2 separate regions of the Homo sapiens genome follow, and region 1 is linked to region 2. Evidence: fine-mapped expression QTL. A gene starts in region 2. The other region holds a variant in brackets. All regions are shown on one strand. Distances are between the middles of the regions.

Region 1 (2,911 bases), 140 kb after region 2:
ATCTAGGAGAGTAGGGAAGGCTCTCTGACAAAATTGTCTTTTAACGTGAGTCTTAATGAAGGAGCAGAATTTCAGTAACAGGAAAGGGTTGGGGAACATTCAAAGGTGAGTCACAGAGACAAACATAAAGACATGAGAAAAGGCCCTCTGGGCTTATACAAACCCTATGGTTCCCTGCGGGCTTTCAGAAGATCCCAAGAAGAAAGGATCATATCCCAAGACATAAAAAGTTTACAGAATGCAAAATGTTGGAATTATTCTAACATATTAAATGAATTTGAAACTTTAAAACCTAGATGATGAAGTTTTATGTAAGAAAACATATAAAATTAAAACTATACCAATTAAAAAATAATGTTTTAATCAAAGACACACTTTTTAAGGACTAAGAAAAATTGGGGGAAAGTAAAATATTTAACCATAAAACTGAAAACAAATGTGACATTGATCACTGTGCTCAGCTTCCCAAAATATATATTGCAACATTCCCCTCCTCCCTAAGCTATATCTTCAAAATATATATATTGTTTCCAATATTTGTTAGACATCAAAATTCTTTTTTTTTTTTTTTTTTTTTTTAAGAAAGGGATATCACCATGTTGTCCAGGTTGGTCTTGAATTCCTGGGCCAAGTGATCCTCCTGCCTAAGCTTCCCAGAGTGCTGGGATTACAGGTGGTGAGCCACCACGCCCCGCCAACATGAAAATTTTTAAATGATTGCCAGGATACAGATCAACCTAAGGATTTCTTCACAATTAAAACAAAACCAGTCATCAAAAATAAAAATGACTTTATCCACACATTTCAGAAGCAAAGTATATTTCCACCCAATTATGTATTCCCAGCCAGTGCTTCAAGAAAAATTATACAGCAGCTCTCTGAAATTGCCTGGTGAGAATGTGCTGCCATCATTCCCATTGTTGGTCAATGCAATATTTACATTTAGGGAGACTGTTCAAAGGTCACAAGACAATTATTTGAGAAATTCAGCCACAGTTTGATGGGAAGATAAATGAGTGTCTAGAGAAGTGGGAAGTGGCTGGGCATGGTGGCTTATGGCTGTAATCCCAGCACTTTGGGAGGCCAAGGCAGGAGGTTTACTTGAAACCAGGAGTTCAAGACCAGACTGGGCCACAAAGCAAGAGCCTGTCTCCACAAAAAATTTTAAAAAATTAGCTGGGCATGGGATGCACACTTGTGGTCCCAACTACTTGGCAGGCTGAGGCAGAAGGATCTCTTAAACCTGGGAGATAAAGGCTGCAGTGAGCCATGATCGCACCATGGCACTCCAGCCTGGGTGACAGAGTGAGACTCTATCTCTTAAAAAAAAAATTAAAAAAAAAAAAAAAAAAAACGCCCGGGCGTGGTGGCTCACGCCTGTAATCCCAGCACTTTGGGAGGCCGAGGAGGGTGGATCACCTGAGGTCAGGAGTTCGAGACCAGCCTGACCAACATGGAGAATCCCC[G/A]TCTCTACTAAAAATACAAAAAAATTAGCCGGGCGTGGTAGCACGTGCCTGTAATTCCAGCTACTTGGGAGGCTGAGGCAGGAGAATCGCTTGAACCTGGGAGGCAGATGTTGCGGTGAGCTGAGATCACGCCATTGCACTCCAGCCTGGGCAACAAGAGCAAAACTCCATCTCAAAAAAAAAAAAAAAAAAAAAAGAGAGAGAATTGGGAAGTGATAGGGGCCTGCATAGACTGCTTTTCCTACCTCCTACCCCTCCAACCCCAGATAACTTTATTCTCTCTACCTGAATATGTCTGAAACTCAGGAGACAGGTCTGGGCTAGAGACAAAGATAATAGCTACATTCACTGAGCACTTAGAAATGTGGCGGTGTCATGCTAATAACTTTACATGTGTTCATTTAACCCTCACTTGTTAGGAAAACTGCAGTAATATTGTTCCCATTTTATTGATGAGGTTTCTTCAGGGCAGAGGGGTTGCTTAATAGGCCCAGGGACTCAAGGGCTAGTAAGCAGTGGAGCAGGATCAAACCCAGGGGGCCAACCCCAGAGCCCCTCCCTCTCAGCCAGTGTGCTTTATTGCCCCAATTCTCAGTCATCTGCATACAAATGGGAATTGATAAGGGGATGGTCCGTTGTAACCATCCAAACCAGGACTCTTAAGGGTTTGGGGTGCTACTAATCATTCTGGGGAAACAGGCAGAAACCAGAACTGTTTGGGGCAAATAGGGACATAGGGTTACCTCATTTCCTGACACTCTGAAAATGGGTGGACACACGAGGATAAGAATGTTGAAGAAGAGAAGAAAAGAGCCCTTCAGTGGGCCTTGAGAAAGACCTGGAAGGGAGGGAGAAATAAGAAAAAGAGAGAGAGAGAGAGAAAGACCAACATTTGGGGAACTGCCAGAGAAAGAGAAACCCTCAAAAGATACTAGGGAAAGACAGGATACAAGGGTGTCACAAATACGTGGACTTGAGGGCTGGGTTTCTCAGAGGGAGCAGTCAGTAGTGCCCCTACCCCTCATACTGTAAGAACCAAAAAGTGGCCACTGAAAGGAGCAACAGGGAAATCATCGGTGATTTACTAACAAACATTCCTTGGCTTTGATCCAGTCAGAGCCAAATTAAAGTAAACGGAGGAGTGAGTGGGAGGTGGGGCCCAGACCCAGACCCAGTCAGTGCAAGCAAGTTTTTTTTTTTAAATGTGGCCTTGGAGTGGAGGCAAAAGATAGGACTGTCCTGGAGGTGGAGTCAAAGATGTTTCCTTTCTTTTTCAAAGCAAGAAACTAGAATGTGTTTAATGCTAAAAAGAAGGATCCAGGCCAAGGAGGGTAAAGAAAATGCAGAATGCAAATTATCCCCTCACTGGGGGATATCCGGGAGCGAAGTCCCTGAGCTGCTGAGGAAGCTTTACGCCTAAGGAGGTACCTCTCTGCCTTTGCAGG
Region 2 (2,911 bases):
GTTAAATGCCTCATGAGCATGGGATCTGCTTACAGTGAAATTGCTCACATTTATTGTGACGTCCACAGTTTCATTTAACAGGCGTTGCTTATTCATTGCGATACAAGAATACACTCCAGCATCCTCAAAACGAGGGCTTTCTATAACCAGACTTCCATTGTGAAACACGTAAAAGTTTTCCATCTCTTTATCCGGCTCTAGCAGTCTGTTATCTGGACCCACCCAGATGAAATCCGTATTTGCATTACCTGTCTTGCTGTCACAGTGGACCATCAGTCTTTCCCCGACCTGAGCCTCATGAATAAAGCCAAGCGCACGAAAGGAACCATTGATGATGCTGTCAGAGCAATTCATAAAGCTATCCTGGAGCAGAAGTACCTGACGCGAGTGCCTGGAGTCAGACCACAGGCGACAGGTGTAATCGTTCTTAAAATCCATCACTGAGCTAAAGTGCCTACGATACCAAAAGACCAGCAAGGAGTACAGGGAACAGTCACAGACAAATGGGTTTCCATGAAGGTAGATGCCTCTCAGCTGTTTTCCTGGCACTAAATTTATGTGGTGCATTGGCATGGAAGGAATTCGGTTATAAGAAACATCTAAAAACATCAGTTCTGCCAGCTTGAACCTTCCAACATACAAATCCATCGGAAACTGTGTGAGAAAATTTCCACTTAAGTAGAGTTTCTGCAACTGGGAGAGCCCTCCAAACGCTGAAGGATCGAGATAGGATATGTGATTGTTGTAAAGCAGAAGCACTTCCAGAACCTTCAACTCTTGGAATACAGCATTTTTCACCGTCTTCAGCTTATTGGACGATAAGTCAAGACACTTCAAATTTGGAGTTGTGGAAAAACTGCCCGTGGAAATGCTGGTGATGTTGTTATGACGAAGAATTAGGGTGTTCAGCTTTGCAAACGATACTGGAATCCACTCAGAATCCAGAAGCCCAATTCTGTTATAACTCAGGTCCAGTCTCTTAATCAGTCTGAAAAGGTTCCCAGGCACCTTGGACAGGTTTTTGTTGGTGCAGCTGACGATGTCAGTGGCACAGATGCAAGCGGTGGGGCACACCCCAGAGGCACCAGGGCCCACAGTCACTGTGATCATCAGCAAACACAGCAGCTCCCTGCAGCCCGGTCTGACGACGGCTCCAAGCAGGGTGGGCAGAGTGTGTACACGTAACGACATTATGGTCGCCTCTGAGTCTCTTCCCGGTGTCTTTTCCACCGGCTCAGCCTCCCACCAGTGAACCTGGCAAACAATTAATAATTCAGAGGGAGTAAAAAGCAGAAACTGACTACCACTAGTTAACCCATAAGAGCCATACCTTACTTTCTTTCCAATAACTTTTGAAATGGGTTTTATTTCACAATAGGGAGCTCTGTGTTGCCTCTTCACTGTTAAATGTATTTTTTCCTCTTTCCTGGGTTAGTCCTGCTTATAAAAATGTACAGTCACATTCTCTCCATACAACCCACCGTCTCACCCACCATCAGAAACTCAATTTTTTCCTAAGGTGCATCCTGCGTTGTTGTTGTTGTTGTTGTTGTTTTAAACTCCCTCCAACAGACACAACTATACGCAAACGTACGCTACAAACAATTAAACGGAAATACTTAGCAACCACCCATCCAGGAAAAAACTCACGGTGCTGGGGAGCCTCGTGGGCTCCGGGGAGGCTGCCTACGCAGTGCCTTCCGAAGGTCTGCGCGTCCGTCTGTCCGTGTCTGTCACTCTTGCACCTTCCGACTTCCTTTCCCTCCGGCTCCCGGCGGGCGGCACCCTCTAGCCGGCTCTCAACTTTGAGGAGTTTCAAGCAGCCGCGGCGGCAGCAGCAGCCCTGGACGCAGCAGCCAAGCTCTTCGCTGGCTCCCGGGGGCTCTCCCGGGTTCCTCTCATTGCAGGCTGAAGGTACCGCCTCGGCGCTCTGGCCGCCGTGTGCCCGCGCGCGGGGCGCCCCGCTCCCAGAGCCGGGGCCGCGGGAGGGGGCGCAGGCAGCCGGGCGGCAGCGGGCGGCCCCGCCTCTCCGCACTCGGGAGGCTGCAGGACCCGGGGTTCCCGCGCGCCCGGGGCCGGGAGACGGGCTGGGGCGCCGGTCCCACCCCTGCGCGTCCTGCCTCCTGCGGGCAGCAGCTCGGAGCCTGCGGGAGGGAGCAGGCTGGGCGCGTGGTGGGGGGCGCGCGATGCGGAGGGGGCGGCGGCGCAGCCAATCCGAGAGGCGGCCGGCGCCCCCTCATACCGCCCCGCGGCCTCGCCGCCTCCTCCCGCTTTCCTCCTCCAGCTCCCACCCGGACCTCTAGAACGGCCGCGCAGAGCGGGGAGGGGGCAGGGGTCCACACCAGAGGCCCAGACTCTGGTCCTTGAGTCAAGATGCCCAACCCACTCGCCTACCAATTACGTCCCTTCGTCCAGCTCCAAGCCGGGCGGTAATGGGGTCCAGGAAGGCTAAAGGGGACACGCCCAGCCACCGAGGGAGGGGTCTCACCCTTGGAGACCCACTTCGCGGCGGCCGCACAGGTCACGTCTCTCTCCCCACCCAGGCCAAGGAATCCCCGGACCTCTTAGAGCTTTGCTTTGGGGCAAGGGCCAAGGAGGCTTTGCCTGCGCCAAGTGCAGTTGACTGTCTGGGTTTACAAAATAAACCCAGAAGCAGCCTGACGTCTCCGCTCGTTTCTAGGGAGGAGGTCGCGGGGAGGGAAGTCGGGAACGTTTCCTCTCCACAGGGATATCTGCTGGGAGGAAGTAACCGGGAAATCGCCACGGGGACACCCCTCACCTCCCTGGGAAAGTTCTATCCCTTTCCTGACTCAGGAGGCGGCAACAGGGATGGTGTCCAATTCAAGAAGGAGGAGGGCAGGAAAGAAGGCTTGGAGCCGACCTTCCGGCTGGAATGCAAAGATAAGAGTAT

Evidence for each region. PIP is the estimated chance that this variant, and not a neighbour inherited with it, causes the effect.
Region 1: its variant is fine-mapped to the expression of PCED1B in whole blood (GTEx, PIP above 0.99).

Annotation. Positions count from the first base shown.
Region 1 is chr12:47,220,783-47,223,693 of GRCh38, forward strand. The region is part of intron 3 of PCED1B (PC-esterase domain containing 1B); the gene reads left to right. Among named protein-coding and RNA genes, the nearest start is that of PCED1B-AS1, 5.8 kb to the left of the region's middle. RefSeq lists enhancers at 1-360, 656-1,387, 1,388-2,118, 2,119-2,849. The variant G/A (reference allele first, on the strand shown) is at 1,467.
Region 2 is chr12:47,077,812-47,080,722 of GRCh38, forward strand. PCED1B (PC-esterase domain containing 1B) reads left to right here and starts at 1,810. Exons shown (of 4, transcript NM_138371.3): 1 at 1,810-1,914. AMIGO2 (adhesion molecule with Ig like domain 2) reads right to left here and starts at 2,148. Exons shown (of 3, transcript NM_001370299.1): 1 at 1,651-2,148; 2 at 1,331-1,437; 3 at 1-1,254. The coding sequence starts at 1,191.